2 separate regions of the Homo sapiens genome follow, and region 1 is linked to region 2. Evidence: fine-mapped expression QTL. A gene starts in region 2. The other region holds a variant in brackets. All regions are shown on one strand. Distances are between the middles of the regions.

The links. PIP is the estimated chance that this variant, and not a neighbour inherited with it, causes the effect.
Region 1: its variant is the best candidate, but not a certain one, in a credible set for the expression of ASB6 in lung (TOPMed, PIP 0.74).

What each region holds. Positions count from the first base shown.
Region 1 is chr9:129,614,253-129,618,622 of GRCh38, reverse strand. C9orf50 (chromosome 9 open reading frame 50) reads left to right here. Exons shown (of 7, transcript NM_199350.4): 4 at 2,976-3,139. It also overlaps a transcript of NTMT1 not described here. Among named protein-coding and RNA genes, the nearest start is that of C9orf50, 4.7 kb to the left of the region's middle. The variant TC/C (reference allele first, on the strand shown) is at 1,547.
Region 2 is chr9:129,640,196-129,644,576 of GRCh38, reverse strand. ASB6 (ankyrin repeat and SOCS box containing 6) reads left to right here and starts at 2,426. Exons shown (of 6, transcript NM_017873.4): 1 at 2,426-2,690; 2 at 3,855-4,036. The coding sequence starts at 2,578. RefSeq lists a silencer at 2,060-2,659 and enhancers at 3,366-3,922, 3,923-4,381.

The DNA of each region.
Region 1 (4,370 bases), 26 kb after region 2:
CATCTACAAATCCTTCCATCCACTTGTAAACCCAGGACACTGTCCATCGCTAATCTAGTCATAAAGCCATCCACAAACCTACATACCCATCTACATAATCATCCAGCCACGCATCTGTCCATCTACCCATACATTCATAGTTCAGTTCTATTCAGACCCTTTCATTAACTCACCCATCAGTCCATCCACCCATCAACCCACCCACCCAGTCTTCCATCATTTTACCCATCCCACCATCATTTGTCCATTTCTTACTCTAACTTTTATTAGGTTTTACTATATGTTGAATATTGGGAGAAAACTAAGGGATGGAGGTAAGAGAAGAGCCTAGGAATTGGAACCTACCTGGGCCTAGACACCATAGTTTTAACAGAGGAGGAAAAGAAGACAGAAACAGTTCCTCCAGGTTAAAATTCCTCCAGGCTTAAGCAGGGGTGAAGGGTGAATGGCACTGCCCATGAGTTTAAAGACCAGGGAGAGTAAATACATCACAAACATATCATTCTTCCTCATCTCATACCCACAGCAGACAAAACTAATGGATCATATTTCCCCACTGAGCCTCAGAACCATTCCTCACACAGTACTCTAGGTAGATACTCCTGATGGATCAGGGTAGGAACTAGAAATGGAACACATGGCCAAGCATGGTGGCTCATGCCTATAATCCCAGTGCTTTGGGAGGCTGAGGCAGGAGGATCGCTTGAGCCCAGGAGTTTGAGACCAGCCTTGGTAACATGGTGAAACCCTGTCTCTACAAAAATTACAAAAATTAGCTGGGCGTGGTGGTGCATGCCTGTGGTTCCAGCTACTCGGGAGGCTGAGGTGGGAGGATTGCTTGAGCCTGGGAGGTTGAGGCTGCAGTGAGCCAAGATCGTGCCACTGCACTCCAGCCTGGGTGACAGAGCAAGACCCTGTCTCAAAAAACAAACAAACAAACAAAAACAGTGAAACACATTTACCAACCTCAGAACGTTCAACCAATCAGGCCAAATATACACATGACTTCTCACAAGATACAAATAAATAAAAGTATGGAATTCATTCTCTCAAATGTGAGCAAAAGCAGAGACAAACACAGTTACAGACTTTCACATTCAAGAGCAAATACTTGAGCACCTTACTGTGTGTGAGATTCCCTGGTAGGCCCTGCAGGGGACACTGTGGTGCCTCAGAACAGGCTCCAGTGGCCCTCGAGTGAAGATGCTGAGATTTCAGGCAGGTGGGCAGAGCTGGGTTATGCCTTTGCCTGGCCCAGCAGCCAGCAGAGAGCAGGGGTTCCTGAGCAGACAACTGTTAGATGACTAGGTCCCAAGGCATGTAGCCAGGCACTGTCCTGACACCTCCCAACTGCTTGGCTCTTTGGAGGCTGATGAAAAGCATTCCCTCTGCATCTACACAGACATACAGATGTGGTCAGATGAATGGATGCAGACATATAACTATGTGCATACTAACGGTCAGCCATGACCTTCCTCCATAACAGAGTTATAGGTGGGTCAAGCAGGCCTTCCCGCAGCCTTGCCCTTGAGGCTGATTTTTTTTT[TC/C]TTTTTTTTTGAGACGAAGTCTCACTCCGTCCCTAGGCTGGAGTGCAGTGGCACGATCTCGGCTCACTGCAACCTCTACCTCCTGGGTTCAAGTGATTCTCAACCTCTCGAGTAACTGGAACTACAGGCGCACGCCACCGTGCCCAGCTAATTTTTTTGTATTTTTGGTAGAGACGGGGGTTTCACCATGTTGGCCAGGATGGTCTGGATCTCTTGACCTTTTGATCTGCCTGCCTCCCAAAGTGCTGGGATTACAGGCGTGAGCCACCACACCGGGTTGAGGCTGAAATTAATAACAATAAATGGAACAATGTTATCTATGAAATATACATATAACAGATACCCTTGATTAAGGCCAAACCCTGTGCCAGGCCACGTCCTACATGCCTCATGTAAATCATTTGATACTCACCAAACCCAGGAGGATGGTATTATTGTGCCTATAATTTAAAGGGAAAAAAACCTGCAGAATGGAGACTTGGAGACAGTCTACCAAAGGCCACGTGGCTGGGATGGGGCATGATTGAGATAGACAGTTACAATAAGAACAGCTCAGGCAGGCGGGCGGGCGGTGGCTCATGCCTGTGATCCCAGCACTTAGGAAGGCGAAGGGGGGTGGATCACTTGAGGTCAGGCGTTCGGGACCACCCTGGCCAATAAGGTGAAACCCCGTTTCTACTAAAAATACAAAAATTAGCCGGGCGTGGTGGCACACGCCTGTAGTCCCAGCTACTCGGGAGGCTGAGGCAGGAGAATGGCGTGAACCCGGGAGGCGGAGCTTGCAATGAGCCGAGATGGCACCACTGCACTCCAGCCTGAGCCACAGAGCGAGAATCTGTCTCAAAAACAAAACAAAAACAAAAAACAGCTCCCTGTTAGTGATGTTTCCTCTGGGTCCTGCAGACCCTGGGCTGGATGCTTGTACGGCCCATTTCCTTTCTTCACAACCCTGTAGGGTGGGCACAATGATTCCCATTTTACAGACAAGAAAACTGAGGCTCAAAAGGGTCAGGAATGAAACCCAGGACTGCATGACTCCTGGGCTGGCATTCTTATTCTCTCTGCTAAATTGCTTTACGTGCGAGGGCGCCAGCTCTGGAACCAGGATGCAGGTCTTGGCTCCATGCCTGACAGCTGCATCGCCTTGGAATAGTCTCTGTGCCTCTGTTTCCTCAACTATAAAATGAGAATGATAACAGCGTTTCATGGGGACTGTGTGCATTTGGTGGGTTGGTGTATGTGCGTGCTTGAGCCTGCCTGGCAGGTAGGAAGTGCTCCGTTAAGGCCGGCTGCTGTGATTGGCGTTATCCATTCTTCAAGACCAGTGTAGGGCACTTGTCCAGGATCTCACAGCGAGTCTGGGGCTGGTGCGTGTGTGCTGGGGTACGGTGGGGGGCTTCGAGCACAGGCCCCTCTCCCCTCTCTCAGCAGGCCCCACGGTGCACAGGTCCCCAGGCTCAAGGCTGCGCTGACCCACAACCCCTCGGGGGAAGGCTCTAGGCCCTGCAGGCAGCGTTGCCCTTTCCGGGTGCGATTCGCTGACGAGACCCTGCAGGACACAACGCTCCGCTACTGGGAGCGCAGACGCTCAGGTAAGCAGACAGGATGGGGAGCCTCGAGACTCCCGAAAGTTCTAGCCAGGAGGGCAGAGAGGCTGTAGCTCCGGGCCCCTAGAGTGAGGGACTGGCTTTGCAAAGGCCAAGAGATCAGTGATCCTGCAGAGGATGTGCCTGAACTGGCCTCCTTGGAGGATGTCAGGTTGACCTTCGAAGACCAAGTAGAGGGTCCAGAGTCCAGTGGAGGTGTTCCAACGCAGGCAGCACCTTGGACTGCTCGCTGCCAAGGGGTTCCCATATGCTGTATCTGCCCACCTTGAGACCCGTAGCCGGAGCCTCCAGAGCCCACACTTGCTCCCCTCCGCAGTCCCCACAGCCTACAGGGGCTGGAGGAGGTCCAGATGCCATTGGAAGCATCTTCCTTTGACATCCATGAAGGCAGACCTCGAAGCCTGCCTGAGGAGGTGCCCAGAAAAGCCGCGAAGCGGAAACTTTCTCTCTCCTGGAGACAGTTGGCACTGCCAGGTCCAGCAAGGAAGCTAAGAGCCACCAGACCCTGGATGTAATGGTGTCTGTTTTGCAGTTCCCAGTGAGTTTTCTTTTTCTTTTTTTTTTTCTGATACGGAGTCTCACTCTGTCGCCCAGGCTGGAGTGCAGTGGCGCGATCTCGGCTCGCTGCAAGCTCCACCTCCCGGGTTCATGCCATTCTCCTGCCTCAGCCTCCTGAGTACCTGGGATTACAGGCATGCGCCACCGCCCCTGGCTAATTTTGTATTTTTAGTAGAGACGGGGTTTCTCCATGTTGACCAGGGTGGTCTCGAACTCCTGACCTCAGGGATCCACCTGCCTCTGCCTCCCAAAGTGCTGGGATTACAGGCATGAGCCACCGCGCCTGGCCATTCCCAGTGAATTTTCTGAAGTGTGTCTCGAGAAGCAGGCGAGAAGTCCCTGTTCTTACTCTGGTATAACCTTGACTAAGCTCCACCTTTTTCTGTGTGCCCAGCCTCTTCTCAGGATCCAGCAGCCCCCAGGGTCCCCAACAGTCAATGTCCTCTAGCTGTTTATTGAGCACCCACTATGTGCAGTTTCAGGAAATGTCTGCCTCAAGGTCTAGCTGTGGGCGATGCCCTGCAAACCTAGGACCTTCGCTGATTTGGGAGGGATCTGACGCAGCCTCCTTAGCGTGACAGGAAGCTGGAGTTAGAAGCTGTGATTTTTGCCCAACTTCTGTTTGTTTGGTGGGGAAACCAAGGCCCCAGAAGCAGGA
Region 2 (4,381 bases):
TGGATCTGACAACAGCTTTAACAACCAGAGCCAGCAGTTACCAGCCGCTGCTGCCACACCCTCAACCTTGCCGGTTGAGGCTCGTTGCTTTGGGTTTTCTTGTACAGTTTGTTTTGCACATGGTAGAGGGCCTTACTCTGCCCATTTAAAAATGTTTCATCTGGCTGGGCGTGGTGGGCTCACGTCTGTAAGCCCAGTACTTTGGGAGGCTGAGGCGGGTGGATCACCTGAGGTCAGGAGTTCGAGAATAGCCTGGCCAACATGGTGAAACCCCGTCTCTACTAAAAATACAAAAATTAGCCTGGCGTGGTAGCGCATGCCTGTAATTCCAGCTACCTGGTAGGCTTGAACCCAGGGGTTGGAGGTTGCAGTGAGCCGAGATCCTGCCACTGCACTCCAGCTTAGGCAACAGAGTGAGACTCCGTCTGAAAAATAATAATAATAATAATAATAAATAAATAAATATAAAAATGTTTACTCTAAGACCCATCGGATTGTCTTGAAATGCGCCTTTAAATGTTTTTTTCCTGGGCTGGGCAACTCTCGCTGTCTGGCAGGTTCCAGGGAGAGGGGCCCAACTTGGCAGAGCAAGGCCCAGGAGGCCAACGCTGTGATGTGGACTGCTGGGGCGGGAAACCCCTCTTCATCATCAGCTTCCCAGAAGCAAGAAGGCATCAAGGCCCCCCCACGCAGACTCCAGGTGGGAGAGGAGGCTCAAATGCATGGCCCAAGGGGAGGTGCCTCGACTCCAGAAAAGTGGTTTTTCCAAGGCAAGCTGGAAATGTCCATTTCCATGTGAGCAGAATTTCCCGATTTCACCCAGGGAGAAATTTCTTTCCTACAGCGAGAACCAAGGCAGAAACGTGCTGGCAGCTGTGGACTCTGCGGCCTGGAGCTGCTTCTAGGAAGCCCAAGCTGGTGTTGCCCTAAAGGGGCTTAAACCCGGCTGCCCACTCCGCCCCTTCTTCCTGAACCAGAGGGTTTTGGCTCCTTCCCACTGAATTCCACTTCCACCAACAATTACAGTGCGCTGGCTCCAGCATCTCAGGTGAGTGTGATTATACTTTTTTTTTTTCTTTTTGAGACAGAGTTTCGTTCTTATTGCCCAGGCTGGAGTGTGATGGTGCGATCTCCACTCACTGCAACCTCCGCCTCCCGGGTTCAAGCAATTCTCCTGCCTCAGCCTCCCAAGTAGCTGGGATTACAGGCGCCTGCCACCACGCCCGGGTAATTTTTGTATTTTTAGTAGAGACAGGGTTTCATCATATTGGCCAGGCCGGTCTGCAGCTTCGAACTTCTGACCTCAGGTGATCCACCTGCCTCGGCCTCTCAAAGTGCTGGGGATTCTACCCATTTTACAGATGAGGAAATCCAAGTTCAGAGACAGGCGGTAGCACACTCCTGTGTTCCCAGCTTCTCGGGAGGCTGAGGCGGGAGGATCACCTGAGCCCAGGGGTTCAAAGCTGCAGTGAGTCATGATCACTACACTACACTCCAGCCTGGGAGACAGAGTGAGACCCTGTCTCTAAAAAATACACAAGATTCGGGCTGGGCACCGTGGCTCATGCCTGTAATCCCAGCACTTTGGGAGGCCGAGGTGGGAGGATCACGAGGTCAGGAGTTCGAGACCAGCCTGGCCAATATGGTGAAACCCTGTCTCTACTAAAAATACAAGAATAAGCTGGGCGTGGTGGCCAGCGCCTGTAATCCCAGCTACTCGGGAGGCTGAGGCAGGAGAATCGCTTGAACCCGGGAGGCGGAGGTTGCAGTGAGCCGAGATCGTGCCATTGCACTCCAGCCTGGGCAACAGAGCGAGACTACGTCCCCCAAAAAAACAAAAACAACAACAACAAAAAACAAGATTCACTGAGTCCATCAAGGCAGAGGTGGAGAGGGCTAGCAGCCGTCCTGGCCAGGTGCTCCCCGGGACAGAGAATAAGAAACTGAGGAGGGGACGTGCGAGTACCCTGGTCCTCATCATTCCAGTCAGCGGGCCGGGTGGTGACAGAGGTGGCCCAGCCCCTCTTCAGGGAAGGCGAGGGCCAGCCCGAACCGGAAGGGGCAGTGTCTGATGACCACAGCTCTCAGGGGCGCCCAGGGCCAGTGGGGCAGCGGCAGGGCCGAGAGCACGACCGGCGGAACTCGGACGGCGCCCAGCGGTCGCGGGCGGGATCGCAGGGCGAAGCCGAGCCGGGCCGGGCCCTGGCAGGAAGGGGCGGACCCGCCTGAGTCTCGGATCTGGCTTGGCTCGATCCTCCACTCTCCCACTCCGCTGGGGCCGCCCACTGGACATCGCCCGAGTCGGCCTGGCGGTCGTGCCCCAGGACGCGCCGAGGTCCTCCGAGCCCGCAGGGGGCGCTGTCGCCATATGGCCCACCCTGAGTCGGCGCGGGCAGGAAGTACGAGGGTCACTTCCGGCGGGGGCGCGGCTTGGACTGAGGAGCGGACCCGGCCGGGCGCAGGGGCTGGACTGGCGGAGCAGGTGGGGTCCGCGGCCGCCGGAGCGTTCCGGTCGGCGTCTGGGCATCTCGGCCTCGGCAGAAAGCGCGACGGCCCTGCTGCGCGGGGCCCGCGGCGATGCCGTTCCTGCACGGCTTCCGGAGGATCATCTTCGAGTACCAGCCGCTGGTGGATGCGATTCTGGGCTCCCTGGGGATCCAGGACCCCGAGCGGCAGGAGTCTCTGGACCGGTAACTCACCCCCTCCCGTGAGCTGGCCGAGGCCGCTCCGACCCCGCAGCGTCCCACTTTATCACCACAAGCCGGGCGGGGTGGATGCGTCCCCCTTGACAGAGGAAGGGACGGGCGGAAGCCGGGGTTGCGTGGCTCGGAGTGCGCGCTGCCCCGCGCGGATCCCACTCCTGCCCCTTGCATGGCGGAGACGAAGGGCGGGGAGGGCCCGAGGGCGGAGGCCCGCGGGTTGTCGCAGGGCCTGCGCCTCAGCCCCACCCTGTCGCCTGCCTGTCCTGTGCCACCCCCCGGCGTGGCAGAGGAGCAGGGTGGAATCCGTGAGGCCTCAGATGTTACCCCAGAGCAGTGTGAAGGTGGGCTTTTGTAGCAGAGTTTGCGTTTTTATAGACAAGAGCTGGTCTGTCGTGGACCTGCAGGAAAGGGGTCGGGAGCGAATCTGCATTCACTGCCCATGGTACTAGGCACCTGGGGTCCATCAGTGGCTCAGCAAAACCCCCGCCTTCTTGGCGCATGTGCTCCAGAGGAGAGACTGACAAGTAATTGTACGGCGGCACGCGAGGTGGAAGGGAGGGGAGAGCAGAAGGAAGGGGCTCGGCTCAGGTGTTGAGGGGGTTGTCAGTTGGTATTTCCAACACGTGGTAATGATGAGTCTCGCCATCCAGGGACTCTGGTGGAAACGTAGGCTTTCTTCATCAATATCAGCTGAAGGTCTCAATGTGAGGGGAGGGAGGAGGCTGTGTTGCTGTCCTGGCTGCAGGTGTTGCCGGGGCTGGGGTCCTGCGGGTTTGAGGATGGAAGGGCTTTCTGAGGAAGAAGCATCAAAGTCGGGCTTGGGCTCTTGGCCTCCAGGCTGGTGGTCCCTTCAGTCCCAGCAGCCCAGGTGTGTGAGGCTTTGTACCTAAGTCTGCGACCGGACTCTGGGCAACGCGGGAGGAGAGCGCAGACAGACCCAGCCCATTCTCCGCAAATCCCAGTCTGCTCCCGTATTAAGAGATGCAGCGTGGCCCTCTCTCTACTTCAGAGCTTCCCCCAAGCCCCTGTGACCCACAGAGCCAGGGCCCTGCTTGCTGATGATGATAGCAGGACTAAAGCCCACCAACCCACAGGCTGCGCGGTCACCCGGTCCCACAGCTGTGCCTACCCTCAGCCTCTCTCCTGTCCCAGGCCCAGTTATGTCGCCAGCGAGGAGAGCCGAATCCTTGTTCTCACTGAGCTGCTGGAGAGGAAAGCCCACTCTCCCTTTTACCAGGAAGGCGTGAGCAACGCCCTGCTCAAGATGGCTGAGCTGGGGCTGACGCGGGCGGCCGACGTTCTCTTGCGGCATGGGGCCAATCTCAACTTTGAAGGTCAGCGAGAGCCCCGGGGGTGGGCAGGTGGCTTAAACGCGGCCCGACGCTGGGTGGGCGCCCATGTCCCCAGCCTTGGCTTCTACCATCCTCTGAGGAGTGACTTCCCCCCCTTTATTTCCTGGGTGGCTGCAACTAAGGAAACTCCCATTGGGTGGCCTCCCACCCCCTGCGGGTTTTCACATGGCTCTTCCCACCTCTGTTCCAAGAGCGAGTGTTGCTGCTTCTACCATGTGATTGATTAGCAAACTTTCCCCAGCTCCCAGATTAATCCCCACTTCCATTAATGCAAAAATGCGGCTGCTGGCACTGTGCCCAGAGCTAAGGGAAGGTAATTTTCTGCTA